5 separate regions of the Homo sapiens genome follow, and regions 1, 2, 3 and 4 are each linked to region 5. The links come from fine-mapping of genetic effects on gene expression. A gene starts in region 5. Each other region holds a variant in brackets. All regions are shown on one strand. Distances are between the middles of the regions.

Evidence for each region. PIP is the estimated chance that this variant, and not a neighbour inherited with it, causes the effect.
Region 1: its variant is fine-mapped to the expression of RIN2 in whole blood (TOPMed, PIP 0.97). The same link has a PIP of 0.9 or more in thyroid.
Region 2: its variant is fine-mapped to the expression of RIN2 in tibial artery (GTEx, PIP above 0.99). The same link has a PIP of 0.9 or more in blood mononuclear cells, breast, esophagus mucosa, esophagus muscle, fibroblasts and gastroesophageal junction.
Region 3: its variant is fine-mapped to the expression of RIN2 in whole blood (TOPMed, PIP above 0.99).
Region 4: its variant is fine-mapped to the expression of RIN2 in whole blood (TOPMed, PIP above 0.99).

Annotation. Positions count from the first base shown.
Region 1 is chr20:19,867,187-19,873,607 of GRCh38, reverse strand. All of the region lies in intron 2 of RIN2 (Ras and Rab interactor 2), which reads right to left. Among named protein-coding and RNA genes, the nearest start is that of RIN2, 110 kb to the right of the region's middle. The variant A/C (reference allele first, on the strand shown) is at 2,797.
Region 2 is chr20:19,995,100-20,001,520 of GRCh38, reverse strand. RIN2 (Ras and Rab interactor 2) reads right to left here. Exons shown (of 13, transcript NM_018993.4): 12 at 4,679-4,842; 13 at 1-908. The coding sequence ends at 585. Among named protein-coding and RNA genes, the nearest start is that of NAA20, 19 kb to the left of the region's middle. The variant A/C (reference allele first, on the strand shown) is at 2,978.
Region 3 is chr20:19,788,822-19,795,242 of GRCh38, reverse strand. All of the region lies in intron 1 of RIN2 (Ras and Rab interactor 2), which reads right to left. Among named protein-coding and RNA genes, the nearest start is that of RIN2, 34 kb to the right of the region's middle. The variant A/G (reference allele first, on the strand shown) is at 3,168.
Region 4 is chr20:19,986,750-19,993,170 of GRCh38, reverse strand. It overlaps RIN2 (Ras and Rab interactor 2), which reads right to left. Exons shown (of 13, transcript NM_018993.4): 10 at 2,860-3,165; 11 at 872-1,003. Among named protein-coding and RNA genes, the nearest start is that of NAA20, 27 kb to the left of the region's middle. RefSeq lists an enhancer at 1-166. The variant C/T (reference allele first, on the strand shown) is at 2,828.
Region 5 is chr20:19,754,640-19,761,060 of GRCh38, reverse strand. It overlaps RIN2 (Ras and Rab interactor 2), which reads right to left and starts at 2,803. Exons shown (of 13, transcript NM_018993.4): 1 at 2,734-2,803. RefSeq lists an enhancer at 1,840-2,414.

The DNA of each region.
Region 1 (6,421 bases), 110 kb before region 5:
GCACCTACCATGTGCTTTTGAGAATAAAGTTTCATTGAAACACCAGCAACCACTCCTTTATTAACATATAGTCTATAGCTGTTTCAGGCTACAGTGGTAGAACTGAGTAGTTGCAACAGAGACTACGTGGCCTGCAAACCCTAAAATGTTATCTGGTCCTTTCCAGAAAAAGTGTGTTACATGGTTGGACATGGTGGTGCACACCTGTAATTCCAGCACATTGGCAGGCTGAAGCAGGAGGATCCCTTGACCCCGGAGTTCAAGAGCAGCCTTGGCAACATAGTGAGACCCCAACTCTACAAAAAACTTTAAAAAATTAGCCAAGAGTGGTGGCACATGCCTGTAGTCCCAGCTACTTGGGAGGCTGAGGCATGAGGATTACCTGAGCCCAGGAGATCAAGGCTGCAGTGAGCCGAGATTGCACCACTGCACTCCAGCCTGGGTGATAGAGCAAGACTCTGTCTCAAAAATAAAATAAAATAAAAATAAAAATAATAAAATAAAACATTAAAAAAAGAAAAAGTGTGTTATATATTTGTATGTAAGTGCTATTTGAGTCTATGTTTAAATCAGTTGTGACATTTTACCATTTCCCTCATTCACTAATGAGTTTAAAAAATTTTAAGCAGTTTTTAAAACATTTAATTAATTTATTTATTAAATATATGTAGAGAGTACAAGTGCAGGTACCTTACATGCATATTTTGTGTAGTGGTGAAGTTTGGGCTTCTGCTATATCCATCACCTGAATAGTGAGCATCATAATCAATGGGTAATTTTTCAACCCTCACTCCCTACCCAGCGTCCCACATTTTGTAGTTTCCAATGTCCAGTATTTCACTCTGATGTAGTTTTTAAAAAGTTTTCTATTAATGTCATGATTTTACCTTTAGAATATTTATCCTTTAAGACTGAACATGTATAGCTGGGGGCCACCAGAGCATGATGCTGCAGGGGAGTGCAGATGATGTGGGGTGAGTGTGCTTCAGGGGTGTCCCACTTGAGGTCAAGGAAGCTGGGTTGTGTAGGTCACTGTTGGAGAATTGCTCCTGGGCGTATTAACTTGATGGCACCCTCAGACGGCCAGGCAGAAAGTTGCAGTAAGACGTGCATAGGAGTGTATGGTAGGAGGAAGTGAGCGAGGTACAATCGCACATGCATCTTATCCATATTTTATCCCCACTCCCACCTTTGCATTTGGACCAGTGCCCCCACACCTTCCCTACTTCGTATATCCAAATTCTGCCTATTCTTCAAAGACTAGCTCAAGCCCATGGTATTAGTCCATTCTCACACTATTATACAGAACTTCCTGAAACTGGGTCATTTATAAAGGAAAGAGGTTTAATTGACTTACAGTTCCTCATGGCTGAGGAGGTTTCAGGCAACTTACAATCATAGTGGAAGGGGAAGCAAGCACCTTCTTCACAAGGCAGCAGGAGAGAGACGAGTGAAAAAGGAGGAACTTCTGAACTCTTATAAAACCATCAGATCTCGTGAGCACTCAGTTACTATCACTAGGCATGGGGGAAACTGCCCCCATGATCCAATAACCTCCCACCAGCTCCCTCCTTCAACACCTGGGGATTACAATTCAAGATGAGATTTGAGTGGGGACACGAAGCCTAACCATATCACCCACCCTGTTCATGGGCTTTTCCCTGAGCACTGCCCCCATAATGATCTAACTCCATTATTGAACCAGTGAAATAACTTAAGAGTCCACAATTCCTAAATCTTAGCGTCCTCCTCATAAACATCATTGAAATAAACTGGGGATCCATTTCAGCATTTTTAACTGGAAATATAGTCCCTGTTAGGCAGAGTTCCTGCCTATGATTCCTTAGAGAAGCCGCGATGCGTACATTGGTTCTACCTCCTTCAGAGTAGAGACCCCACAGAAGTGGAGATAGGAAACAATCCTCACTAGCACTGATCTATCTTTGTTGAGTATTTTGACACGTGGCAATGCATGCCCTAACTCCCAGCCAAACCTAGAACAAGCCAACCTAGAACAGCTAGAATGTGTGACCTAAGTTGGCAGTCTGAGGAAGAGGAAATTCTGAAACCACATAGTGCATGATGCACTGCTATTTACTAGCAACAGTGATTTTTCTCACCTCAACCCTGCTCCCTCATTTTAGTAGGACATCTCTGAGGTGCACGATATATACTGTCTCCCAAAGATACCTCATGAGATGAAGCTTCAGCTGGGTGTCAATTTGTTGCTCAGGGTGGTCTCAAACTCCTGGCTTCAAAGTGAAGCCCCGTCTTGGCCTCCCAAAGTAAGATTACAGATGTGAGCCACCTACCTGGCGAGAGTATCATTTTTGTTGTTGTTCAGCTCTTGCAAAATAAATTCAAAGAAAAAGAAGTGTCACCAAATGAATTAGTCCTCTTAGGATCCCCATGTGCCTTGGTCCAGATCTGCTCCCATCAGACCACAATGAAAGCTTTTAAGATATCCCTCCTGTCTTTCTCTTCATAATCCCTTGCCTGCTTCTCCATGGTAATCAGCAATCAATCCTGCAATACAAATGAGCCCTTGAATCAGCTAGGAATTTTTATGTTGGAAGTAACAGAAAACCCCATTCAAATTGGCTTGAAGATAAATAATAACATCTCCTTAAACAGTATTTGTTAGTTGCAAGGGGACCGATAGTAACTACACAGTGGAGAAATTAGGCAACACCTTGTCCAGGTGATCCAAGTCAGCATCCCAAACGAAGGCAGCCAGATGCTGTGTTCCTCCAGACGTGATGCCCTAGAAGAACACAGCATCAGTTAGAGGATATT[A/C]CAACAGAGAGTGTGTATGTGGAATCTCATCAAGAAGAAACATCATACCCACTCCAACTGAGGGACATCCCATCATAGAACTGGCCTAGATTCTACATCAATATCAATGTCGTGAAAAACAAAGAAAGGCTGAGGAACCATTTTTTCTTTCTTTCTTTCTTTTTTTTGAAAGAGTCTAATGCTATAGCCCAGGCTGGAGTGCAGTGGTGCGATCTTGGCTCACTGCAACCTCTGCCTCCTGGGTTCAAGTGATTCTCGTGCCTCAACCTCCTGGGTAGCTAGGATTACAGACGTGCACCATCGTGCCTGGCTAATTTTTGTATTTTTAGTAGAGATGGGGTTTCACCATGTTGGCCAGGCTGGTTTTGAACTCCTGGCCTTATATGATCCACCCACCTTGGCCTCCCAAAGTGTTGGGATTACAGGCTTGAGCCACTACACCTAGCCTGAGGAATCACTCTTAAAAAAGATTAAAGAGGCCTGACACCTTCCTGCAAAAGACATGATCTGGACTAGTTCCTGGACTAGAGAAAGAAACATGCTATACAGGACATTATTGGGAAAAATGATAACAATTGGCATCTCGGGTTTAGATCAAAGTATCATATGATGATTAGGCTCCATTCTTGGGTCATCGAACTGTGGGAATGTAGGAGAACCTCCATGTTCTTCAGAAGTATATACTGGTGCAGTAAGTGGTGAAGGGGCCTGATGGCTACAATCTACTCTAACCTGGTTCAGAGGCTGATACAGGAAATGGGGCAAAATGGCACAGGTCAGTGAACCTGTGCAAATAGTACAGAGGAGTCCTCAGAACTATTCTTGCCACGGTTCTGGAAGTTTGACATTATTTCAAAATAACTTGGCCCCGTGAGGTGGCTCACGCCTGTAATCCCAATGCTTTGGGACGCCCAGGCGGGAGAATTGCTTGGGTCCAGCACTGTCATCTGGGCAACATAGCGAACCCCCTTCTCTACAATAAATAAATAAATAAATAAATAAATAAATAAATAAATAAAATTAGCCAGGCATGGTGGTGCACACCTGTATTCCCAGCTACTTGGGAGGCTGAGGTGGGAGCATCACTTGAGTCTAGGAGTTCGAGGCTGCAGTAGCTGTGATTGCACCACTGCACTCCAGCTTGGGCCCCAGAGCGAGACCCTGTCTCTCAAAAAAAAAAAAACCCAAGAACAAAATAAAAGCTTAAAAATCTCTAAGCAGTAAAAGTGATTAAGGGATGGCCTAAAGTCCAGGGTGAGGGTGGAGGCTTCATGGAGTGGCATGGGCCAATCCAGCAGCTCCACAATTCAACCAGGCCCCATTTCCCCAGCTTTTTCTATCTCTTGGTTTGGCCCTTCCCTGGGGTCAGTGCTAACCCATCTTCAGTGTGGCCAGTGATGACGTGGCTTCGTCTCCCCACCTCACCATGTCACAAAAGTCAGTAACCTCTGAAGGAATAGTGAGGGTCTTGTTCCCCAGAAACCCTTCCTCTCAAGTTTGGGAAATCCTGCCTAAAACACAAAATCTAATCAAGGTGGCCCTGACATCAGTCCAAACTCTGCCACAGCGTATATGGTCTTCATCAATTTCATTCAAACCTTTATTTGCATTTCTAATCCCTCTCTCCAGCGCAGACTCATCCACCCTGCGTGTTTCTGTATACATCACTCAGTCTCTGTTTAAAATGCCTCACCACCTGGTGAACACTTTTTTTTTTTTTTTTTTTTTTTGAGACGGAGTCTTGCTCTGTCACCCAGGCTGGAGTGCAGTGGCGTGATCTCGGCTCAACTGCAACCTCCACCTCCCGGTTCAAGCAATTCTCCTGTCTCTGCCTCCCGAGTAGCTGGAATTAGAGGCACATGCCACCACACCCAGCTAACTTTTTGTATTTTTAGTAGAGACAAGGTTTCACGATGTTGGCCAGGTTGGTCTTGAACTCCTGACCTTAGGTGATCCACCCCCCTTGGCCTCTCAAAGTGCTGGGATTACAGGTGTGAGCCAGCATGCCCAGCTAGTGAACACCTTTTTATCCCTCAAGACTTAGGTCAGAGATCATCTCTGTGCTAGCTTCCCTTCATTACCTATTCCCATTATCAGCCCTTCCCCTTTCTGGGTCCCCAAGGTCCCTCTGACAGCCTCCACAACATCATGATTATAGCTGTCTGTTTATCTCACATAGGCTGTGTGCCCCTACAGGATGGAGCACGGCCTGTTGTCGAATGTTCACGGTCTGCCCAGCATATCATAAAACCCGGATGAAACCCTAAGACCTGCCCTGCTCATTTCACGTGTTTCCTGGCCCAGTGAAAGTGTGTGGTATGAATTCAGGAGCGAATCTGTAAGAGTACTTCAAACAGTGCTGGACACTAAATAATTTACTAAAATAAAACGTTGTCCAATAAAATACATCTTCATTCCTTTGGGTATTTTACTGCATTAAGGAAAATTACCCTGTTACTCAAGCCACATGGAACCACTAAGAAACTCATAACGTAGCCAGGCGGTGGAAAGCGCGTATGTCCCAATTTCCTGTTTTTCTCCGAGACGCTGCTGCCCCAGCCTGGGTCAGGCGATGCGTGGTTTGTGGCCTGCCACTTGGGCAGCCCTGGCTCAGAAGAAAGGCCATCTTCATTTTATATGGGAAAGTTGGAGAAACCTCAGAAGAGCCGTGGTGCATAAATATCACGTCACCAAAGCAGGGAACTGGCCACACTCACAGGCCTCCTTGGGGCCTGGCTTGGTGTCAGTTCCTGCTGTGGAGCTTGGTTCGGCTCTTTGTGCACCAGCATGCCCCACGCCAGACATGACGACACTGATGGCTTTTGCAGCCCCAGCCACAGAACAGGCTGCTGATGCTGCCCTTTCTTGTCCCACGAAAACGCCTTGCAGTTCAGAGAGCAGGCCGGCTCACCCAGCTGCACAGCATTTTCAGAGCAGCTTTGGGGCCATCATCCAGCAAAGTCTAAATACCCTCCCAGTTTGATTCATCTCTCAGTTTTAGACAAACCACAACTCTTAAAATTCTCCCACTGCAGAGAAACTTGGTGGACACCACCATCTTAACTAAACTATTGGAGCTGGTGTCACCAGGAATAAAACAAACCTGCCACATGTGCCTCCTGATATCTGGGACTGAGGAGGCCACCGCATCACTCTGGGGCATTCCTGCCACGGGTGCAAAACATGAATCTACTGTGAGGAGCATCAGACAAACCTAAACTGAGGGTCACTCTACAAAAATGATTGGCCTGCATGCTCTAAAAACGTAAAGGTCTTAAAAGGCAACAAAAGCTAAGGATACATTTCAGAGTGAAGGAGTCTCTAAACAGAAGTGACAACTCAATTCAATAAATGATCCTCAGTTGGATGCTTAACTGAAAAAAAATGCTGTAAATGACATTATTGGGATAATTGGAAAAACTGAAATATGGGCAACAGATTAAAGTATTGCATCAATGTTAAATTTCCTGAATTTGGTAACTGGATTGTGATGATGTAAAAATATGTCCTTGTTCTTAAGAAGTAAACACTAAAGTATTGAGTGGTAAAGAGGCGTGACTCATGCAACTTACTGTCCAATGGTTTAGAAAAAAGTGTGTGTGTGTGCACATGAGCATGTGTGCAC
Region 2 (6,421 bases), 240 kb before region 5:
AATGTTAAAATCACATGCATAATTATAGAATATTTTAAAGTTACAAAAATATTTTAAAACCAATCCTGACAGTTTACCTGCAACTGCTATAAAAATTTCTATGAAATATATAAAAACATGAAGGCTCTTTGTAAAAAAAAAAAAAAAAAAAAAAAAAAGGAAAAAGAAAGGAAGGAAGGCAGGGATGAAGCCATCCACAGGAGTGAGAATCACCTGACGCACTGCATCGCAAGCATCTGCTGTTGAATTCAAAAGAACTTGTATCTTAAGTGTTTCTTCTGCACATATACATACCTGTAAGCCAACCTAGAACCTGACTGGGGGTAGGTAGCAAACAATCTCAGGACACTTGAACCATCAGATGCAATTCTCCATTGCCAAAAGAGAATCCTACTGTTTCACAAACCTCAGCTACCTTGCGTGGCTAAAGTTGCCCTTGGCCGAGTTGGCCTGTGGATGGCTTAGTCACTACACTGAGGGGTCCCCGAGGAGGTGACTGCTTTTCAAGCTCAAGCATGTAGAAGCGGGAAGGCAAGGCTTCCAGCTCCCCTTTGGATGCACCACTGGGAAGTCCCGCCTGTCTTCTAGGAGGTGGTGAGGTCTTCTTCCCCGTTCTGGAAAATGATGCCATAAGGATCGTTCTTGATGCGTTTGTAGACAAAGTGGAAGATGTGGGGCTGTGGTCGGCTGTGCAGCTCCGCCTTGATTTTTTGAGGGTAAGTGTCCTCTGCCAGCTGCTGCCATGTCTCGTCAACGAAGAGAAAGAGGCTGTACTCCTCAGGGTCCCCCACCTTGAACTTCTCAGCGCAGATCTGACACACATCCTCAGTGGTGATGTAAGGTCTCACAAGGAGGGTCTTTCCTGTGCAACCACTGTTGACCTCCTGAAATGCAACTCGGAGGTAATTCTGCAGGTGGAAGAGGAATGTTGAGACAGTCAGAAGAGAAAACTAGATAGTGAGCATGATGGGGGACCAGGGGAGGGGGTAACTGTAAGCCATTTCCAGGCCCTTTCCTGTCATAATGTCCGATGTCAGGCCACGAGGCTTCGAATGGCAAGGAAAGAGGCTGATCTGACTTTGGACAGTGGCGAAGATGACTACATGATTCATTGCAACTGTAAGAAGCAGGAAGTCCATGCAGCCCTGGTTCTGATCTTTCCATTTCCCTCATAAGGTCTGGTTAAGAAACCCCTGCTTAAGAGTGTGAACCACATCCAATGCTGGGTTTATTCCCAGCTTGAAAACTAAACCAAATAGCACAAGAGTATGAAGGAAGTCAGCAGAAAGAGATTTAAAATATCTAGACACAAAAGCACGTACTGTGCTCACTTTTTGTTTTCTTCTTTTCATTTTAAGAGATGAGATCTCACTATATTCTCCAGGCTGGACTCATACCGCTGGGCTCAAGTGATCCTTCTGCCTCAGCCTCCTGAGTAGCTAGGTGTACAGGTGCATGCCACTGTACCTGGCTTGTGTTCACTTTTGACAAACTTTTTAAATAAATCCTAAGCAAGGGCAATCATTTAGGTTGAATCACACACACACAAAATGCGCTGACTTTTGACTATTTTTTATCTCCCCCAAATGGTGATTTCATGTAGTTCAATCTAATACAAGGCTCCTAGTGGCTCTGGGCACAATGTGGAAAAAGTCAGAAGGAGAAGAATGTTGATTTTGCCAAATACTTTGCAGATGGAGCTGATTACATGCAAGGTGGTGCTGCAGGGAATTAAACAAAGACGTTTGCAGGCTCAGGTGCTGCAATCATGCCAGGTACATGCTATCATGAAACATGTAAACCTGTGGCCTTACAAGATACAAAGCCCAGACCAGGCATAAAGAATCTTAAACTCACATCAGGCTCTCCTAGATTTTGTGACCCCAGATAACTTTGCTTCTGTTTCCTTAACAGTGGAGTTATCAGATGAAATCTAGAACAGCCAGTTAAATTTGAGTTTCAGCTAGAAAACAAATAGATTTTTTTCTGCTAAATCTGGCAACCCTGCTCAGCAGTGAAGGGAAGGAGGGCTCTCTGCCCAGGTGCCTGCAAGGTCACCACGAGGGTTTCCTGGGATAACAGAAGGGAAAGCTCTTGGGAAGGACAGTGAGCTCTGCACATGTAAGATATGTTTCATATCTGCTTCCAGTGGGGACTTTTGCTAGCCCAGTGACTTTGCAGGAGAGGTGAGCTAGTGGGAGGTGCCCAGATTGACAGTGACACTCTTTGAACCTTTTTTTTTAAGAGACAGGGTCTACATAATCCCTGTTTGACTAGTGCAGAAACTGAGGCACAGAGAGGCTACGTAACTTGCCCAAAGCCACACAGCTAGGACGTGGCAGATGCAGCCCCACCGCCTTTACCACCAAGACGTACTACCTCTTCCCATGTGAGAAGACCTCTGTGTCTGTGGCCTCTGATTTAGGGGTTCCAGATGGAGCTTTGGGTCTGAGGTTTTGCTTTGACCCCTGAGCCGAGTGCTGAACATTTCCTTCTTCGGTTACACTCTGAGAAGGCATGCACCTCCAAGGTGAGCAGGGTCAATGAGGGCAGGAGGGGACGGCTGCAGAAGAAGGCAGCTCTATGGTGTCTGAGGGTCTCCAGGTGAAGAGGTGGAGGAGGGTGTGTTGGCAGGTGGGGAAAGGAACAATGAACTTTTTTCACTTCCTCTGTTCTGCCCTAGGCAGCCCCTCCCTGGATGGCTATATGATGGCACCCCAGGGGTCTGCAGGCACTGAGTGGCACAGGGACCTTCTTAGTGCAACAGGGTGGGGAGAGTGCAGTGCGTGTATTCTCACTCTTTAGGTTTATGCGCTCCAGAAGGAATTTCTGAGCATACTGCAATCATGGAGAAGAATGAGCTGATCTTGGCTTTCAAAGATGGGCTTGCCTTTTTGTTTGTTTGTTTTTGATACAGGGTCTCATTCTGCTGCCCAGGCTGGAGTGCAGTGGTGTGATCATGGCTCACTGTAGCCTC[A/C]AACTCCTGGGCTCAACGGATCCTCCCACTTTAGCCTCCTGAGTAGCTGGGACTACAGGTGTGCACCACTACGCCTACCTAACTTGAAAATTTTTTGTTGTGGTTGTTTTGTCGAGATGGAGTCTCACTTTGTTGCCAAGGCTGGTCTCCAACTCCTGGCCTCAAGCGATCTTCCTGCCTTAGCCTCTAAGGTGCTGGGATTACAGGCATGAGCCACCTCATCTGACCCTCTATTTTCAGAGCTCTTATAAAAAAAAAAAATGGCCAGGCGCAGTGGCTCACGCCTGTAATCCCAGCACTTTGGGAAGCTGAGGCGGGTGGATCAGTTGAGGCCAGGAGTTTGAGTCCAGCCTGGCCACCACGGTGAAATCCCATCTCTACTAAAAATACAAAATAAATTAGCCAGGTGTGGTGGTGAGCACCTGTAGTCCCAGCTACTCCGGAGGCTGAGGCAGGAGAATCGTTTGAACCTGGGAGGTGGAGGTTGCAGTGAGCAGAGATCGTGCCACCACTGCACTCCAGCCTGGGTGACAGAGCGAGACTCTGTCTTAAGAAAAAAAAAAAAGCAGGTGAATCTGGATGTGTAGACAAATCTGTCTTGCTTTCCACATCCCTGCTTGGAAACTCATCATGGGGAACATAGAAACAAACCACAGGAAGGTTTTATCATTTAATTTAAAACCTTCAAAATATTATTTGCAGACATTTGCCAACTCACTCATTATTTCATAGACAATGAGCAAATCAGGAATTGTGTTGGGTAAGGATTTCTTTGTTTCTTTTTTGAGACTAAGTCTCACTCTGTTGTCCAGGCTGGAGTGCAGTGGCGTGATCTCGGCTCACTGCAACCTCCATCTCCTGGGTTCAAGCGATTCTCCTGCCTCAGCCTCCCAAGTAGCTGGGATTACAGGTGCCTGCCACTACACCCAGCTAATTTTTGTATTTTTAGTAGAGACAGGGTTTCACCGTGTTGGCCAGGCTGGTCTCGAATTCCTGACCTCAGGTGATCTGCCCACCTTGGCCTCCCAAAGTGCTGGGATTACAGGCGTGAGCCCTGATGCCTGGCCTTGGGTAAAGATTTCTATAGCCCTAACCCACCTGTCCATTCTAAGAAACAAGCTCACTGGGAGTCCCACATTCCCAAGCAGCAGCTCACGGTCAGGAAAAGCCCTGGCCAGGGAACCTGAGCAGGACTCGCTCAGATGCTCGCCTGGTCACTCTGCGCCGTGGACGGCTGCCATAGCTGTTGCTGCTGCTGCTGAGATTCTGGGGTCTTCTGTTTTGGAGAGTGGGCGAGAGAAAAGGGAAGGAGACATCGCTGTTCCTCTCCCTCTTCCCAAAGAGAAACTAGGCCAATTGCATCGCGTAACACAGCGGCTGTTTCCTGATGAAACAAAATCTCCAACGTCTGTGCCAAGTGCTTCCTCCTCCTTTTTGACTTATCGTCTGCTTGATTGGGCAGAGATTCTGCCTTAATTCAACTTGGTTTTCTTAAAGACAGCAAAACTTGGGCCAAGTATCCCATGCGTATATAAATGTAAAGAAAACAGATCAGTGTAACAAGGCCAGAGGGTGGTTTGAGATATCCCTTTCCTGCCAAATAATTCAACACAGTGGGGACCTCTGAGCTGGGATGTGCTGGGTGAGCCAGCTCCGCATTCCTGGAGGACGAAGGAAGCAAAGGGGTGGCCAGCTGCACACCTGGAAGTCGTCCACAGAGGGGATGGTCCGGTTGGTGGTTCTCCGTTTGTGCCACTGCCTCAGGGTGTCTCTGGTTTCTGAGCTGAGCAGTCGCGCTGCTTGTTCTTCTTGGAAATTCTTTATCAGAGAAAGTGCTCCATATGCGCTTGTCAAGTAATAGCCTCCTGAAAAGAGCAGAAAGAGTGGGTCCTCCCAGTGCCAACCTCCGCTCACGGGTGATAACAGGGGATGCCAGCGTTAGAAGGCATGTTTTGTATTTTTAGTATTTCTTCAACATGCATTTCCTTGTGGGATCACAGAAGCACACACCCAAGAGCATGGCACTCACTCCTCCATCCATCCCTTCACACAGCCATCCCACAGAGATTTCTGGAGCGACCCAGGCCTGGGAGGGGCCAAGGGGGCACAGACAAGCCAGGCTGACAAGGTTCCTGTTTTTCAATGATGGGATTTCCATTCTAGTGCGTGAGACTGACCAAGCCACTAAAGTGTTTTTTTTGTTTGTTTGTTTTTTTGTTTGTTTGTTTTTGAGACGGCGTCTTGCTTTGTCACCCAGGCTGGAGTGCAGTGGCACAATCTCAGCTCACTGCAACCTCCGCCTCCCAGGTTCAAGCGACGCTCCCACCTCAGCCTCCCGAGTGGCTCGGATTAAAGGCATGCACCACCACGCCTGGCTAATTTTTGTATTTTTAGTAGAGATGGGGTTTCACCATATTGGCCAGGCTGGTCTTGAACCTTGGCCTCAACTGATCCACCTGTCTCGGCCTCTCAAAGTGCTGGGATTACAGGCATGACCACCATGCCCAGCCGAAATTATTAAAGTGCAATTATGAAAAATGTTTGCCAGGAGTAGTTGGGGTATTAAGGCCTGACGGGGAGGTGGGGGGAAAGTCAGGCGTGTGAGGTGATCCAAGGCCAGTATCCCCTCCATCAGTCCAGACTCGTGGCAACACTTGCTCTTGGCTTTTTCTTTTAGAAATTGATATTTTCTATCTCTGATAAACAAGAATTTGGTTTAAAAAAAAGTAAAAAGGAAAAAACGCAATGAGTATTTTCTAAATCTTAAGTAAACTATACACTTTGAAAGAACTGTTCGCAAAAATGTGGACACTTCAAAAATAATTTCTCTCCCTTGATTCCCTTTCTTACCCCCCCCTTCCTTTGGGACTAACATAACATCTGGCATTTAGGATAAAATAATTTACAGGAAAGTGATGTTCCTGTGATGGTGTATTTAGGAATGATCTCTTATGTTCTTGAGGAGTGTAAAAAGGGCTGACGACACTGTAAGATGTGTATGTATTCCTTCATAGTTTTTGTCCTAACATATAATTAGGTGCCTGGGGAGGAACTTATGGTCTCTGCGCTGAAGAGCCACTAGGGGTCGCCCTGAATGTTTATTAAAAATTCCCTAATTGGGCACAGCATATTTTAGATTTAGAGACATTCTTTGTCAAAATACTCATTGAATCTCTACTGTGAGCCACAGCTACAGAGAAGAAAGTAGGTTTGTAAGAAATAGAATCTGAGTCCCCACTCTCCAGAAGTTTATGAATGTGTTTTGTTTTTTTTTTTTTTTTTAAAAAAAAAACAGACACTGGCAATTTATTCCTGCAGGGACCAGAAGTTAGTTTGGCGAAATGAGTTTTGTGCAGAAGTGTCACCTTTAGGGCCAAAGTATTTAGCTTTATTCATGTGAGACCCTGCAGAAGCCTCTCTCTGGTCAATAAGTGGCAATATGCA
Region 3 (6,421 bases), 34 kb before region 5:
ATGGTGCTTTTCCGTAAGAAGAAATATAATGACATATTAAAAACAGAAACAGACTGACTGAGACTTCCCTGCGAGTCCGGGTTAAGCAGCTGGAACAACTTGGGATGCTGTCCTGACCTTCCTGGGCCAGTGTCACCGCATGTGTACACAAGAGCATTTCCTCAGCAAAGTGCCTGTGTTTTAAATGGGTTATTGAACTTTAACAGGGTTGTGTTCCTAAGAGAAATGCAAATTCTTTTAAAACTTACATTGGTTTCTCAACAAACTAGAGTTTCTCTAAAGACAACTGAAGTGTTTCTACCTTTAAGGATTCTAAATTGTCTTAAATTTTAATTTAATTTTTCTATGGAGGAAAGCCAAATTTATGAAGGGGATTGTCTTGATCAGAATTATTCATGAATTAACCAAATGCGGAGTAAGCATCTAGTAGGTGCGAGGCGTTGTGAGAAATCCTGAGTCGCTGTTCTCATAGAAACCCTGAAGTCCTTATAAAGAAATTTATAAATTAAAACCTACAAGGTAATAACAGGTTGAAGAAAATGAAATACAACTAGATTTAATTTTTCTTAATCCAGTAGTCACAACTCTAGAAACTGAAGTAGTTGCTTATTTTTCCACATATTTTGATAGCATCATCTAGAAGGTTCATATGAACGTTATTCATCATTACCTAGTATCACTGTATCTTTTTTTTTTTTTTTTTTTTTTTTGGATACAGGGTCTCACCCTGTTGCTTAGGCTGGAGTGCAGTGGTGCAATTTTGGCTCAAGGCAACCTCCACCTCCTGGGTTCAAGTGATTCTCCTGCCTCCGCCTCCCGCCACCTCACCTGGCTAATTTTTGTATTTTTAGTAGAGATGGGGTTTCGCCATGTTGGCCAGGCTGGGCTCGAACTCTTGACCTCAGGTGATCTGCCCGCCGTGGCCTCCCAAAGTGCTGGGATTACAGACGTGAGCTACTGCACCCAGCCCACTGAATCTTTTTTTGAAGATTTGCACATGCAGGCCACTTGCTGGGTGCCATTTTGAAATCTGCTACTGGTGGAGTTCATCTCTCACTAAAGCCTTTCTTTTCTTTTCTATTCTGTACATGTTGACTATAGATGCATTATTCTTTGGATCCTTGTGATCTTGGGTATATTATTTTCCCTGATCTTCTCTTAAAGGAAGTAAAATTGGTTCAGTTCATCCTGCCTTAGTGTATCTAAGCTTCACAGATGAAAAGATTCAGTGACCAATTTGATTGATTTTTGTTAGGTACTGAATCCTGCCTGTGTTATCTTCATGACTGGACCACATCTCTGGTGTTGGCTCAGGCTAAGAATTTACTCACCCAGCTATGAGCTTTCTCATTCCAATTCCCTGTACTTCCCTATCTAGCAACCCCAGCAATGCGTCAGTAGCTACCATGGGGAACCCAAATCTAGGCTTCTCCAGTCTTTCCCCACAGCTTTTCCTACAAAACGATGAATTGTCAACCTTAGAAAGTGTTAAAAACATTGTTCTGTAATCCTAATAACCTGGAAAATTTGGAGTTACTCAAAGTAAAATAAGTTTCTTTGTGCAAGATTTCTAGAGCATCTCTGCTAGTATAATCTAAAAGGGTCAAAGTATGTTCCAGCATCTCCCAAAACCCTTTGAGTTTTCATTTGTGAAAACCTCAGGATTAGGCCAGCTGTGAAGATAGTGCCCTGGAGTACTTCTTTTCTCCCTCCCTTTTTCCTTTCCTTTTTTTTCTTTAAATTAATTGTACTAGAGAAAGGCATTGCCATCTCCCTCTCTGGGGTACGAGAGAGAGAAAGACTAACATTCAAGGAAAACCATGCTATTATCACAGGAAAGCCCCTCTGTGGCTGAGCCATCCAATATAGCAGCCACGGGCCCTGTGTGGCAATCGAGCACCTGAAATGTGGCAAGTCTGAATAGGAATGCTTTGTAAGTAGAAAATATGCTCCAGGTTTTGAAGACTTAATACAAAAAAATTTTAAATGCTTCAGTAATAAATTTTCATATTGATCATATGTTGAAATATTGAATTAAATACGATATCTTATTAAAATTAATTTTACCTATTGCTTTTGACTTTCTAAAATGTGACTACAAAAAATTTTAAATTACATATGCAACTCATGTTATATTTCTATTGGACAGTGCTGCCTGATGGAATAATTCCCAAAGCCTTACAGGTCATCAATACCCCTTGGCTGGGCTGCTGTATTTGCTGTATTCTGAACACATACACACAAACACAATGCTATATTCTGAACACACCAGACACACACACACACACACACACACACACACAGTGGCTGCTTAGCCTAAAATACCTTGCCCTCCGCAGCCATCTCCTGTTACCATCCTGCCAAACTTTTAAGATCCACCTCAAAACATAATAGGCAATTGCTAGCAGGTTTTCAGAAGTGATTCCATGCCAGGCACTATGCTGAGCCCCCTCCTCCCTCAAATCACCCCGACAGCCAATGAAGGGGTAATAGAATATGCTCATTTTGTAGCTGGAAGAGGTGAGGTAACCTGCTTAACGCTATGTGCTGGTCAGTGGCAAACCTGAGTCTTCTTTGGCTTGTCAATCACCAAATCATCTTTGGTTTGTCATCACTGTCCCCCCTTTAGCCCCTCTGGTGGCTCTTGCCTCACCTCCCCATGTGTGCGCTAAGTCCTCAATGGCAGGCACCCCTTGCTCCTGTGAGCTTTGCTTCCCTCACTTTCCAGATCTTAGTTCAAGTGTCTTTCTCACAACACACATCACTCATTACATCCTATTACCACTGCTTTGACATTTTGTTTCAGGCACATGATACCCTCTGATGACCCGGGTGGATTCTGCTCTTGTTTAAATGTTCACGAGAAATGACACTATGAGGCCTCAGTCAATATTTGGTTAAGGTAAAGCATGTTATATACTTGAATATCTTCCTTTCGCCATCTTTTAGAAATGTATATTTTTGCTGTTAAAAATGGGAATTAAGTGCATTGATGAGGGTGACCATTACAGACAGGTAGACCCTAAAAAGCCAAGGCAAACCACGCCAGCTGGAAGTGGAATTTCCGCTGTGGTAGAATTTGCCTCTGAAGACCTTCACAGGCAGTTCCTCTGTCCACAAAGAAGAATTTCTTTCTTTCAGCTCATACTGTCCACTTGGCCTTGTCA[A/G]CTGCTCTGGCCATGTCCCTGGAAGGAGTCCCACTTGTCCTTCCTCTTCCCCCAACCATGGAAACAACCTGAGAAAAAGCTGGATGGGGGAGGGAAGGAAAAAATACACATTTCCTTTTCAACATTATTAAAGGAATGAAGATAATAATTATGGGTAATTCTAAAACATGAACATTTTAGGTAAGTTTAGATGACTTTATTCCTTACCTGTTGCCTGAAGTGGACACGATACAGGCAAAGAAAGCCTTGCTAGTTGCACTAAGACAACCCCAGTGCTGAGTTTGCATGAGAATATGAGCATTTCCTCAAAATGCCTCCTGTTAACAGTTCTAGGAATACTTATTTCAAAGAATAATTTATCTTTGGAAAAAGAAATTAAAGTTCCTATGAAAAATAAGGATTTATATTTGTTATATTTTTCATTCCCTTTCCAAAGACATTTGTGTAATGAAGAAAATTTAGATTACTTTAAAATGAACTTCTTAGTTAACTTTCCTCAACTGATGATCTCTGTTTTCCCTAGAGAAGTCATGTTACTGTAATTTTATGAAGCTTTCCTCACTTCCACATAATAATATCTGAGGCAGGGGGCACATCTCCTCTTTGGTGGATCAGGTATTCTTTCAAAGATCAAGCTAAGAATTTTGTTGACCTTAAATTATCTAAGCCTTAGCACTGTAACTCCCAAATTATATTCTTTGGTGTCTTCTTAAATATGTAAGAGGAAATTAAATAACATCCACAGAATTGTATTTTAGTCATTTTCTCAAATAAATTCATTCACTTTTTTGGAAAACTTATCTTTAGAAATGACCAGTAGTTTTAGAAATACATATATATCTGTGATAATTTTCCAATCATTTCTAATTCTATTTTTCCAATTAAAGAAATGGGACAAGTAATTCATTTGTTTATTCAATTTCAAAGCCACTGGCTGATTTTGTTCAAGGTCTAAGCTATACATTACAGGAACACACATGAAGTCCTGTTTTTCTTTGTGGGCCATCTGAAAGAGATGCAGAAGATGAGTGTAGTTTTGGCTGGGGAGTATGGGGAAAGGCATTTTAGTTTAGACAGAACCACTTGGTTTAAAGCAGCTGTGCCAAGCTACAACCATTAGAACACTGCTTAGCCCTTGGGGCATATTGAGGATTCACATGGAAAGGCAGGCCAGGTCATGGTCTGGACAAAGGGAAGGGTTTCCATTTTACAATGCAAACCTATGGGAGCTAGTGACCATCTCAGAGTTGGGGTGAAGTGCTGGAGGCTGGAAGGACCATTTAGGGCAAGTAAGAGAGACCTGAACTAAGGAATATGGGCTTGAACTAAGAAAGAAGGTGACAGACATGAAGAAGGGCCAGATAAGGCCACCCAAAGGATAAGGAAGTTGGGAGGGGGAATTGGTTGGGGTAAGTGGATGATTATTCTATTTTTATTAATTTTTTTACTGCTGGGGTAACCCTATGTTGCCCAGGCTGGCCTTGAACTCCTCCTGGACTCATGTCATCCTCCTACCTCAGCCTCCAGAGTAGATAGGACTACAAGTGCAAGCCACAGAGCCCAGCTTATCCTAGATTTAGATAAGTTAAGCCCAACTTGAAAAATCCAACATTAGTTGAAAAATTAACAGGAATAAATGGATATTCTGTATCAGGATAAAAAGTCCCCTTCCCTAAACCCACATACACAAATAGAGAATGAAAGCCAAGTGGAGTAATAGCTGCCCCCTAATTAATAAGGCTAGAGATCAAGTTATCTGAGTGGGAAGCAGGCAACCTGACTTGCTAGCCTTGTAAGACTGGGGCAGTTGCTGGTGTCGGTGGGTGTATGATTATTTCATTTTTGAATAAATTGAGGTTTCTAGGGAGATCCAGATTGAGAAATCCAAAAGGCAGTTGAAGAATTACTAGAGACAAATGAATAAGTCTATATTCAGAAAACAACTCATCTGCAACGAGGGAAATGATGGTCTATAGAGGCCAGATCACCTTCAAGCCTTCTGTTCAATTCTGGGTGCCACATTTTGATAAAAACGTGATAAAATTAGGGCCCGTCAAGAAGTAGCTAGAAATGAAATATGTGACCATGTTTAGGAAAAGATGTTTGAAGGAGTCTTGGATGATTGACTTGGAGAAAAGAAAAAGCAGGGAAGCCTCTGTCATGTGAGTGGAATTAGACTTGCTCAGTGACAGATAAGAGGAGAACCAAAGGAGAGAAATTAGAGGAAGACAAATTGCAACTCGAGGTGAGGAATCTCTGGCTAGCACTTTGGGACTGGGTGATTTTCTCCTCATCAAAAATATTAAAGCACAGACTGAACAACAACCCATGGGGATGCATAGAGGGGACTGAAGCACATGGCAGGGAACCAGGCAATAGTTGGATGTCCCTGAGAGTCCTACGACCCCATGGGAGGAGGCAGATTGGAACAACAGTTATAAGATTAGGAGCCACCTACAGGGAGCAGGCAGCTAAAGCTACAAATAGGTAAAATGCCCAAGATACCAACTGCAGCAAGAGAAAGTAAGTAAACCACAGAAAGAATCTTGTACAAAATAAAAGAAACTAGGCAAGATAGAGAAATCATAAAGGACTAGGAAGAAAATTAAGAGTGTCACATAACAAAAGACAAGGGAGAGGAAATTCTATTGAAGTATAATTAACATACAGTAAAGTGCACACATCTTAAGTTAAAAGTATTATTTTAAAAAATCTTCGCATATCCCAAGTTCACGAAGATATTTCTCTTGTATTTTTTCTAGAAGGTTAATTGTTTTAGTTTTAACATTTAAGCCTATGATCCATCATAAAATCATTTTTGTGTATGGCATAGGAATCAAGTTTTATTTTTTTCCTCAGGAATATCAACTGACTAGCGCCATCTGTGGAAAAGACTCTTCTCCCGCCTCCACACCCGCTTAATTGCAGTGTAGCCTTTGTTGTAAGCCAAGATACTGCATTATCTTGTAGCTCTGTCTCTGAACTCTCACTTCTGTTCCATTTACCTATTTGTCTATCCTTGTTCTGATGCCACAGTCTTCATTATGTAGCTTTATAGCATGTCTTAATAATTGGTAATGTAAGAGCTACAGATTTGCTGTTGTTCTTAAATATGGCTTTGAATTTTATAATTATTTTTCAGTTTCACCTACAGTTTGGAATTAACTTGCCAATTTAAACAGAAAATAATTCTGCTAGGACTTATTTGAAATTTTAATGAGTCCGTAGATCACTTTGGGGATAAATGACATCTT
Region 4 (6,421 bases), 230 kb before region 5:
TGAAAAGATAAGCTCACATAGAGTCCCAGTTATTTCTGCGTTTCAAGGCTGTGCACTACTGTGCCAAACATCCTAATCATTTCCATGTAAAATACCTAAGCTATGTGTAAGGAGAAGGAATTTCTGCTAAGACATGTTGGGGTTAGGCAGACACAAGGAGAAGGAACCCGAATGCCAACGTAAATTGAGAGCAAACTGCACAGATTCCACACCCCTGTATTTTTACTATAAAAATGAAAAGATACTTAAAAAAAACTGGAAAAAAATTAATACTGTTTTCACCTTGAAAACGAAATTTTAAAAAATAAAAACAAAGCCAAGCTTTTATCCATTTCACTAATATAAGAGCAGGTTATTTTCCTGGCAATGGAAATATCCTCAACAAAAGTTTATAATTTCCTCTTGGAGCCAAAGAAACCATTTCTTCCAAAAAAAATGGCATTTATTCTACTGAATGTATTTTTTTTATTGCCATTAAGCAATCTTAGTGAAGTATAGTTAAGATGGGGTTATATTTTTTCTTTGTGTTTTTCCTGACTTTTCCAAATTTTCTACCACGAGTGTGTATTACTTTTGCAATCAGAAAAAGGTTAGTACACTCTTTTAAATTAATAAAAAATTCAGTTAACACTTAAGATGTCAAAAAAGCACCCAAGTAACTGCTTCATGGGTGCAGAATTTTATTTTAGGGTGAGGAAAATAGTTTGACACTAAATAAAGGTGGAGAATGCATGACATTGTGAATATACTAAATGCCACTGAATTATTCACTGTAAAATGATTAATGTTATGTGACATGAATTTCGTCTCAATTATAAAAAAATGAAAAAAATAGCACCCAGTTCCTTCAACTTTTCTCAAAAGCAGTTACCTTCTCCATGTAACAGCGATGGGTCTAGGAGCTCCATCATGTACTCGATTTCAGTGTCCAATTCAAGCATGTCACACTGGGCTATGACATAGGTCAGGACTGGCAAGAAGTCATCAGCGCCATACATCCTCCCTGAGAGCAGGAAGAGAAGGAGATGGAATATTTTTACCAACTTTTCTTTCTTTCACATCCTTCTTGCTGCTTTTATTAGACAGCAAGGAGTCACTCTGGGGGGAACTGTGCTATTTATAAACAGAGGTGAGTGTTTCTGGAATCCTATGTAGCCTCTGACCCTCCCAGCTGCTAATGTTAGAGACCAGCCCTTACAGTTTCAGAATGAATGTCTATGAACCAATGAACACATTACAGATTTTCTCCCTACTTTTATAATTTGTATAAAATTATGTGATAGAACAGAATACTCGTTAAAATATTTTAACTTTCAGCAAACAAGATTATAAAATGCTTACAAAATATTTACTTATGCTAATTCTTTGTGTCTTACTTCCTCTTTCTTGCTGTGCACATTATTTACAAACATAATGACAAGGTCAAACTCAAACCAGGAATAAGCTAACTTTGCTCTGTATTTAATGTGAGCACACAGTTAATTTCTTTAAACGTGCCAATTCAGTACATGTTGAATATACACATTGATTAATGGAAATATATGGCAAAAAATGTTAGTGTTTACTTCTAGTTTTCTTTACATCAGTGGTTCTCAACTGGAGATAATTTTGTCCCCCAGGGGACATTTGGCACTGTCTGAAGACATTTTTCATTGACATAACTGGAGGGTGGGGATGCAGATGACATCTGGAATGCTGCTAAACTTCCTACAGGAAGCAGGGCAGCCCCCAAAAGAAGAATTATCCTGTCTACATTAATGTCTTTAGTGTGTGTGTTGAGGAACTGTGCTTCAGAAGAGCATAATCCTTCTGAATTATTTGGGGAATTCAGATATTCAGATATTATTTGGGGAATTTTTATAAATAACTGTGAACTATAGAAAATATGTTTCCTATATGTGAAATATGCTTGCAAACTTGTGAGGTGATGTTCACTTGCTATCATTACCACGCCCAGGAGCTCATATTTTAACTTCTTCACTCAACAATTCCCAAAGTGCACACACATTCCTGTCTACTCAAGCAGTGGTTAATACAGCCTGTGTTTTCTCTCTGCTGCTTCTCCATTAAGCAATTTCACTCAGAAGAAAAGTTCGTAATCGTCTTCAGAATTACAATAAGCTTACTGAAGACCTGGGACAATGCAGGGCTCCATTACTATCCAGGATTCATGGTTACCCCTGCATCTACAGGAAACAACAAGGCTAAATCTGAGGGCTGGCTTTCCAAGATTGTAACTCTTCGGTGAATTTCAATTATATTGCTTCAGCTTGTAGCAAAGAAGGGCTAGCCAATGAAGCGGCTCTAATGAGGCCTCATTATAACTGAATGTTCAGAGTTTCTTTCACATACTATAGGTCATTGACACAAACCCTCATTGGCCAAAATGTTGTAATGATAATCGCTGACATTTCCATTGCACTTGGGGCTATGTGTGGGCTGTCTCAGCTAATCCCCACCTCATGAAAGAAAGGGTGACATCCGGCTAAAGACGCAGAAAACTACAGCGTGCAAGGTTGATTAAGGGGGCCAAAGTCCCTCAGTTAATTTTCTTCTTCTCGGAGGGAAGATTTGAACTCAGACTCCAGAGACTGAATTTGTAACCATACTCTGAACTAAATCTTTAATTAAATCGGCCTGGTACAAAAATCTTGTTGCCCTCATCTGCTTACATTTTAATCTGTTGCATGTGACTAATGTGCCGGATATCAGAGAATCACTTGTAGTTCTGTAAGCCACTTGGTGAAATCAAGAGACCAAAGGGAGGAGAAATTGGGAATCAGAAAGCCTGACAGGAGAGAGGCCTGTCCCCGGCCCGGAAGGGAAG[C/T]GGCACGAAGCCTGGGCTTCCAGCGGCCTCACCTGAGTTGTTCTCCATGACCGTGTAAATGAGCTTGCAGACCCGCAGCAGCAGCATGACCTTCTTTTCCGGCGAATACATCTTCTGCATGGTCATGAACTTGACTTTGATTTTCTCCACATCCACAAAATCAGGGGTCGGGGCGAAGACCCCCAGCTCCTGCGGATTCCTCTGCCGCACAAGCTGCAGGTTCTCCTTGAGTTGCTTCCATGAGCCATCGGCCATGTGAAAGTCCTTCAGCATGGCCTCCACGTGCCCCTTGAGGGGCTTCAAGATGCACTTGTGCATGGCTTTTTCCAGCACCACATCTGCCAAAGAAAGTGTAGCTACTATGACTATTGTCTGAAGAAAGAAGAAATGCAACATCTGCTTTCTTACAATGGACATCTGCAACTCTATGCATTGGTTGCAGGCACACAAATTGTACACCTTAACATCCAACCAACAGACAACACCAAGCAGCGCCATAACTCACATGTTAACATTTTTCTCTGAAAAGCCAGGAAGACCGAATCTTCCCCAATGATGTCTAACTTGCATATAATCAATACAATGAAATATATTTGTTTTAATTACTTTCATGCCCTATCCCTGTAAGTACAGGCAAATATGCTAGAAGACATTCTTTTGACCTAGTCCTTCAACTGGTCATCCAATTAACAGGAGAGCAAAGATGTTATCTTAAAGGAAGGATTTTCTAATAATGAGCATTCAACATCTCTTAGAATATTTTCTGAGGGCCAGGCGTGGTAGCTCACATCTGTAATCCCAGCACTTTGGGAGGCTGAGGCAGGCAGATCATTTGAGGTCAAGAGTTGGAGACCAGCCTGATCAACATAGTGAAACCCCATCTCTACTAAAAATACAAAAAAATTAGCTGGGCATGGTGGTGCACGCTTGTAGTCCCAGCTACTGGGGAGGCTGAGGCAGGAGAATTGTTTGAACCCAAGAGGCAGAGGTTGCAGTGAGCCAAGATTGTGCCACTGCACTCCAACCTGGGTGACAGAGTGATACTCCATCTCAAAAAAAAAAAAAAAAAAAGAATGTTTTCTGAGGAAATAGATCCACCTAAATATAGTATGTGATCTTGGATCAGATTCTGGACTAAAAAATTCTTCATTTGCTATAAAGGACATTAGTGGGGCATCGAATACAGCCTGCAGATAAGGTAATAGTGCTAACAAGGCATCAGTGTTAATTTTCTAGGTCTGATAATTATACTGTAGTTATTAAACAGAATAGCCTTGTTTTTAGGAAATATGCATTGAAGTATTTAGGGGTAAAGGGATATAATGTCTGCAACTTAAATGGTTCAGAAAAAATGAGAGACAGTGTGTGTGCACGTATTTGTGTGCATGTATGTGTACGTGCATGTATCTGTGTGTGTGCACGCGTGTGTGTGTGTGTGTGTGAAGAGAGAGAAAGAAGAATGAGGCAGATGTGGCGAAGTGCTAACATTTGGGAATCTGAGTGAAGGGTAGATATTTCTTTATGATATTTTTGCAACTTTCCTGGAAATCTGAAATGATTTCAAAATTAAAAGTTAAAAATGTGTGAAATGTGTTTCTGTTCCGAGTTAGGAAACACCTTTGGGTGTGGGAGGCGTTATTCTTCCCTCCTTCATTGAATGGTTTCCCAGTGGAGTAGCTTTCTTGGCTAATACTAAAATGACCAGTACCATAAATCCAGAGATGCGGGCTGAAGGCTATTTATATAATAATAACTCCTCTGCTTTGTCAATAGCAGCTTTTTGACCTCACACGTTTGCACATTCTCATCTGAGCCCCTTGGGTTCTGCTGCAGCATCTACGCATAAAATGATGACACCTTAATTTTATTCCATTTGGGAAGCCAATGGGTCCACTTACATATAAGATCAGAAATAGTTAAGTTAGGCCAGGCATGGCGGCTCATGACTGTAATCCCAGCACTTTGGGAGGCTGGGGTGGGCAGATCACTTGAGGCCAGGGGTTCAAGACCAGCCTGGCCAACACAGCGAAATCCCATCACTACCAAAAATACAAAAAATTAGCTTGGCGTTGTGGCGCACACCTGTAATACCAACTACTCTGGAGGCTGGGGCATGAGAATCTCTTGAACCCTGGAGGCAAAGCTTGCAGTGAGCCGAGATCCTGCCACTGCACTCCAGCCTGAGTGACAGAATGAGACTCTGTCTCAAAAGAAAAAGCAAAAGAAATAGTTGAGTTGTCTCTCTGGCCTTTGGAATTCCTGACGCTGGATCAGATCTTATTGAATTCAAATGATTACCTATTATTAGAAGGCCAGGGACAAAGATAAATCTAACGCAGAGGTACAAACAATGAAAACAGTCCCCCAAGGTTAAAACTGAGGCCAAAAGTTAACGCTGACCCCACAATCATCAGATTCCCCAGCCCAAGTTGTTTTTTTCTTTCTCCTCTTCCAACTTATCCAGGAGATCTCTTTGTTTAAATACAAAGGTTTATATAACTATAGAAATCAAGGTTGATGCGAAGGAGGTTATAAAGTAGGAAAAAAAGCAGAACAACTTATTCACATCTGGCATTAAAACAAATTACTTGGTTTACATTGGTTGCTTTGTGTTAATAAGCTCGTGCAACTTCATAGCATCTTTGACTTTACCTTATATCATCATTATGATAAAAAATTAATAACAGAAATTAATATTGAGTGCTCAGATGGGCCAGCCTCCATCTAAGTGCTTTACTTCACTATCATCTAATCCTTGCAATAATTCTATTATTTTTGCACAATACTAATATTATGTCCGTTTAACAGATGGGGAAACTGAGGCTCAGAGATGACTAATGGCTTGATAGAAGCCACACAACTATTTTAAATAACCATTTATACAGCTTTTCAAAGTAAATAATCTTTTAATTGTAAAGTTCAAGTCACTTTATAAATACTCGCCAGTTTATTCCTCTCATCCAAACATTCTGAAAGCTACATTCATGGTTGTAAGTGACCACTACTTGGTTAAAATAGGGTCACCACGGGAGGACAAAGGCCATGTCAGTCATTAATTAGAAACGTAAATGAATGTCCATAGTAATGTTATTTATAATAGCCCCAAGCTGGAAATAACCCAAAGGCCCATTTGGACAGAAATGAATACATTGGATATATTCATTCAATGGAATACTACAATGAAATTCAGACAATGGAATGTATTTATTCAATGAAAAAGCTCACATTACTGCTCCAGAACAACATGGATGCATCTCATGAACGCAAGGCTGTGTGAAAGAACCCAGACACAAGAGTATCTCCTACAGCATTTCGTTTATATGAAGTTCAAAAGCAGGCAAAACTAACCTGTGGGACAGAAGTCATGATGGCAGTCCCCCTTGGGGAGGATCTGGGCCAGGACAGGACACCAGGGATTAGAGATGTTCTGGATCTGGATCTGGACTGTGTCTACATGGGTGTGCATGTGTGTAAAATTCTGTTGAGCCGAGTACTTAAGATTTACACACTTTATGGATGTAAGTTAAACCTCAATAAATGTATATGAATCAGAAAAACAGAAAACAACTAAAGACCTGGATGAGATTTTCACCT
Region 5 (6,421 bases):
AACTTCTCAAAATGCCTTGACAAAGGGACACTTTTGTTCATTCATTCATTCAACACCCCCTCCTTGAGTGGTAGGTCTTAAGGGCTATGGCCTGGTTTTGGACCCTGGGAAGCTTACAGACAGTGGGCAAGTGAGGTCCACTGTATTGCTTTAAGAGATACATACACATACACACACACAAGGAATTCTGGTGGCAGTGAGGGGGTGTCTTACTGGGGAAAGGAGGACAGGGTCGGGGAAATCTTTCTTGCTGAAACTATTAGGATTCTTGAAGGTTCATTAGGTAGGTTGGATATACAAGGGGAATTGGGCACAAGGTCAAAGCACTATAATACAGAGAGTATGTGAAGAATGGGCCTCCCATTAATGGGTCACACGAGCATGGACCTCTCAGGGTAGCATACCCTGTGTTTCATCTGTGATACCTGATTCATCTGTGTCCTCCAAGCAGAGGAAGAGGGTTTAGCTAAGCAAGGAGGTTCTTTCTGGAAAGTGGAAGTCCTGAAGTGGGTAGTGACCCTTGACTTTGGATAAGGTGTATGGCAGGACACCTTGGGTGGGGATAAGAGTGCTGCTGCGAAGTTATCTTTAAATAAGCACACGCCATAGCCATCCTGGGAGTCAAGCTCCCTCCCACCTGCCCTACACTAGAGGTCAAGTGTGGGCTATTTCAGTTTCCTCCTCTGCTCTGATGAACTGTCTGCAGGAGAATGTTTCCAGACAAAGGTCTTGATAGCAGGTTGGTTTTCCCCGTGTCTCCAGCCTCCAACTACTGAGAGCAAGTCTCCAAACCCAAAAGCTCCTGTCAACAGCCTTCTTCCCAAGTTCCAAAAGCAAGGGCCCTTCACTGTCCCGGGACCCTACCCATCCCTAGCCTGTGATGCTCTCTCTGGAGGTGCCAAAGCACGGGAGTGCATGAGTATTCCAGAGGCAATATTGGAACCTGAGGCAAAAAGGAAAATTAGCACCTCTATATCCACTTATGACAATATCCTCCTACATTTGAATTAGGTAAAAAGTTAATAAAAGCTCTGCATTCAGTGAACGTGACTACATCTGAAGCCAGAGTTGCTCAATCTGTTGCATGCCACTGTCAACTCTCAAACCACCAGGCAAGGGAACAAACAAATGGGGAGGTGGGGGAGGGAGACTGGATATGACTGTTCCCATTGAACAATGAAGCAGGGTTCTTTTTTTTTAGACAGAGTTTCACTCTGTCACCCAGGCTGAGTGGAGTGGCACAATGTCGGCTTACTGCAACCTCTGCCCCCAGGTTCAAGTGATTCTCCCACCTCAGCCTCCCGAGTAGCTGGGACCACAGGCACATGCCTTCAGGCCCAGCTAATTTTTGTATTTTTAGTAGAGATGGGGTTTCACCCTGTTGGCCAGGCTGGTCTTGAACTCCTGACCTCAAGTGATCTGCCTGCCTTGGCCTCCCTAAGTGCTGGGATTACAGGCATAAGCCACTGCACCCGGCCTATGAAGCAGGGTTCTAACAACACCCACCTGTATTTAAAATGTTGATTTTTGCTTATCATGAATTTTTTACATTCAATTTGGTTTTGTTAAAAAGATTGTATTAAAATACTATTTATCTTAATGATGGAGTGCTGCCCTGTGTGTTTCTTTTTTCCCAGTAAGCCCTTTGCACTCCCAGCAAGTGTTTCTTTTTGCTTCAGTATTTACAGTCCTTTTGGTCGAAGAGTACTCTGATGTTTCCTTACCGATGACAGCGTGTTCCTAAGAAACCCCAATGTGCCCAAAACCGCGCAAGGAAGTGCCGCTACACTGCGGAATTAGGAAAGCCCCAGGGATTTAAGAGCTCTGAGAAGACAGGCGCCTCTCAGGGCCCAGGGGACCGATCTTGCCCTGTATTTCTTGGCAACATATCATAGGCTTTCAAGCTGAACTTCTGCAAATCCTGCTGTCCCCGCGCGGTCGAGGGGCGCGCCACCGCCGGTGGGTGGACGCCGAGCTGGTGGGAGCCCAGGCCAAGGGTGGAGGCCAAGCCCAGAAGGGGGCGGGGAGGCCTCAAAGTGGGAAAGTGGCCCCGTCCCTTCCCGGCAGGAATCCGGGGCTCCTCCTCCGCCCGCTGCGCAGCCATCAATCACCGCGACAGCCCAAGTGCCCCCTGCCCGGACACAACAACCCTCCTGCTTTTCCACCCGGGGGAGGAAATCTCCGGTCGGAGCATCTGCCCTGCACACTGGCTGGACTCACCAGTGGGGTCCGCGCTGGGGATCAAAGCTGTGCGACACCGGGTCTGACCCGCGCGCTCAGGCGCAGGGAGCACTTGACACCCCACAGGCAGCCCTGCAGGTAGAACTCCTCAAAGGTCCCTACCAAACTCCGTCCGGTGCACACGCACGCACACCCGCACCTCCGCACCTCGAGCCATAGTGCCTGCACCCTCCAGCTGTCCCTCACCCCAGCCCCGCACAGGTCAGCTGAGGACACCCGGTGACCCTGCCGGGACCAGCGGCCACCTCGCGCTCCGGAATGTCACTCTGCCCCTTGTCCCCACTCCCTGATCCCCCTTCCCCCTTCCGTTCCCCACGATCCCCGAGGACGCGCTCTGGCTGTCTTCCTCAAGTCCCCTCCGGAGTAGGGAGAGAGTGCGCACAGCAGCACCCACGTCTGGAACCCCAGAGAGCCCCGCCCGTGCCCGGAGCCTCTCCGGGCTCTCTAGGTGCGGGCACAGGGGGTGGGGTCTCCGCTGCCACCGCCCCTTACCTCTCGCGGGCCCTCCCCGCAGGTCCCGGAGGCGGGGGCGACCGGTGGCCCCAAAGACGAGCGCGGGGCTGGGTTTCCCCGCCCGGGAGGAGCAAGAGGAGGAGGAGGAAGAGGAGGAAGGGGGAGAAAGGAGGGGAGGGGAGGGGAGAGGAGAGGAAAGAGGAGGAGGGGAGGGAAGGGCTTTGTGTTTGCCTCGGGCCGTCCCTCGGCAGTAGGGAGCCATCCCCCTCCCCCAGCCACCTTCCTGAGCTCGCAGAGGAGATGGGGCGGGGGTGATCGGATCGGAGGCAGCGACCAAGGCGCCTGCGCGACCCCAGGTCCGGCCCATCCCTCCATTCCCTGTAACCGCCAGCCTCCGCCCCTCTTGACAACCACCCGCTACGCTTACCCTGTTACAAGGAACCCAGGCTGCAACCAGGAAAAACTGCCATCAGAAAGTTTATCTAAGCCGGAGCAAACTTGGCTGGACCGGCCCCTGACCCGCCTTGGCGCTGCCGCCCCTGTCTTCTGCGGTCCCCGGCCAGGCGAGGACCAGAGTTTTGTTCTCGGAGATTCTTGCCTTTCTTGTTTTAGCACAAACGCGCACGCACCCCTTTCCCATAACGAGCCCCTCCGCCCAACTACAGATCCCGGGATCTGTTGCAGGGGCTGGAAAGGCCCCACTCGAGAGGCCTGAGCTGGCTGCGGCTCTTGGTTCCGGGGCAGGTTCTCCAGGGTTGGATACGCTCTGGACGCCTGGGCGGGTTGTTTTGCTTCGGCCTCGCTGGCCAGGGGCCCGCCCACCCCGCCTGGAACGCGGTTTGGATCGGCGCTGGGAGCCCTCCGTAACCCCAGCTGAAGGCCGCGCAGGCAGGCGGGGACGCCGGAGCTGCGGGGCCGGTTCCCAGCCAGCATCCAGCCTTTTCGGAATCAGGCGGGTCCCTGGTGATTCGCTGGGTTTTCCCACTTCCCACGGGGACCTCACCTTTGGGAATTAATTGCTGACAGTGTTAGAGTTACAAAGTAGCCAGTGTCACGGAGGGAACCTCAAAGAGACAAAGGGACACCTCGAAGGTGTCAGAGAGACGGTTGTTTTGGACAGAAACAGAACAGCGAAGCGGAAAGAAAACAGACCTTATTTCTGTTCTGTTCCACTTCAGATAGTAGCAGAGGAGACTTGGATTTCATTGGTGTTGGTTTTCGTGATTCCTGCCTTCTAAAATCCCAAGACTTATTTATCATTTATCATCAGCTCAGATCCCAGGAAAACAGTCCACTGCACTTCGGTTTCTGCTCCAAGTCACCCATTAAATAAATAATTGAACACCTGCTGGTGCCAGGCGCAGTTCTAATGCTTGGGATATGTCGGTGAACAAAGCAAAGGTCTCCCTCACCTGGGGGAGCTGAAGGCCTGCGGGGAAGAAGTGGGAGACAGAGGGTAAACCATGGCCATCCCTAAGTAAATTATTTGGGGTGTTGGAAGAGGTCGGTGATAGGGAAAACAAGAAAAAGAATATGGGGGCCCAGAGTGCTTGTGTCTGGAGCAGGTCACAGAATTAAATAGATGGTGTGTGTCAGGCCTCTGAGCCCAAGCCAAGCCATCGCATCCCCTGTGACTTGCACGTATACATCCAGATGGTCTGAAGTAACTGAAGATCCACAAAAGAAGTAAACATAGCCTTAACTGATGACATTCCACCATTGTGATTTGTTCCCGCCCCACCCTAACTAATCAATGTACTTTGTAATCTCCCCCACCCTTAAGAAGGTTCTTTGTAATTCTCCCCACCCTTGAGAATGTACTTTGTGAGATCCACCCCTGCCCACAAAACATTGCTCTTAACTTCACCGCCTATCTCAAAACCTATAAGAACTAATAATAATCCACCACTCTTTGCTGACTCTCTGTTTGGACTCAGCCCACCTGCACCCAGGTGAAATAAACAGCCATGTTGCTCACACAAAGCCTGTTTGGTGGTCTCTTCACACGGACGCGCATGAAATTTGGTGTCGTGACTCAGATTGGGGGACCTCCCTTGGGAGATCAATCCCCTGTCCTCCTGCTCTTTGCTCTGTGAGAAAGATCCACCTACGACCTCAGGACCGACCAGCCCAAGAAACATCTCACCAATTTCAAATCCAGTAAGCGGCCTCTTTTTACTCTCTTCTCCAACTTGCCTCACTATCCCTCAACCTCTTTCTCCTTTCAATCTTGGCGCTACACTTCAATCTCTCCCTTCTCTTAATTTCAATTCCTTTCATTTTCTGGTAGAGACAAAAGAGACACGTTTTATCCGTGGACCCAAAACTCCGGCGCCGGTCACGGACTGGGAAGGCAGCCTTCCCTTGGTGTTTAATCATTGCAGGGATGCCTCTGTGATTATACACCCACGTTTCAAGGGTGTCAGACCACGCAGGGACGCCTGCCTTGGTCCTTCACCCTTAGCGGCAAGTCCTGCTTTTCTGGGGAAGGGGCAAGTACCCCAACCCCTTCTCTCCTTGTCTCTACCCCTTCTCTGCCTTTCCTGGGGCAGGGGCAAGTACCCCTCAACCCCTTCTCCTTCACCCTTAGCGGCAAGTCCCGCTTTCCTAGGGGCAAGAACCTCCCAATCGCTTATTTCCGCACCCCAACCTCTTATCTCTGTGCCCCAATCCCTTATTTCCGTGCCCCAACCCTTTCTCTGCTTTTCTGGAGGGCAAGAACTCCCCACCCCTTCTCCATGTCTCTACTCTTTTCTCTGGGCTTGCCTCCTTCACTATGGGTAGGCTTCCACCTTCCATTCCTCCTTGTTCTCCCTTAGCCTGTGTTCTCAAAAACTTAAAACCTCTTCAACTCACACCTGACCTAAAACCTAAATGCCTTATTTTCTTCTGCAATGCCGCTTGACCCCAATACAAACTCGACAGTAGTTCCAAATAGCTGGAAAACGGCGCTTTCAATTTTTCCATCCTACAAGATCTAAATAATTCTTGTCGTAAAATGGGCAAATGGTCTGAGGTGCCTGACGTCCAGGCATTCTTTTACACATCAGTCCCTTCCTAGTCTCTGTGCCCCGTGCAACTCGTCCCAAATCTTCCTTCTTTCCCTCCCTCCTGTCCCCTCAGTCCCAACCCCAAGCGGCGCTGAGTCTTTCTAATCTTCCTCTTCTACAGACCCATCTGACCTCTCCCCTCCGCGCCAGCCCAAGCTAGGTCCCAATTCTTCCTCAGCCTCCGCGCCTCCCCTCCCTTCATCCCACACCTGGTCCGACTTATAGTTTCATTCTGTGACTAGCCCTCCCCCACCTGCCCAGCAGTTTACTCTTAAAAAGGTGGCTGGAGCCAAAGGCATAGTCAGGGTTAATGCTCCTTTTTCATTATCCCAAATCACATAGCGTTTAGGCTCTTTTTCATCAAATATAAAAACCCAGCCCAGTTCATGGCTCGTTCGGCAGCAACCCTGAGACGCTTTACAGCCCTAGACCCTAAAAGGTCAAAAGGCCATCTTATTCTCAATATACATTTTATTACCCGATCTGCTCCCGACATTAAATAAAACTCCAAAAATTAAATTCCGGCCCTCAAACCCCACAACAGGATTTAATTAACCTCGCCTTCAAGGTGTACAATAATAGAAAAAAGTTGCAATTCCTTGGCTCCACTGTGAGACAAACCCCAGCCACATCTCCAGCATACAAGAACTTCCAAATGCCTGAACCGCAGCGGCCAG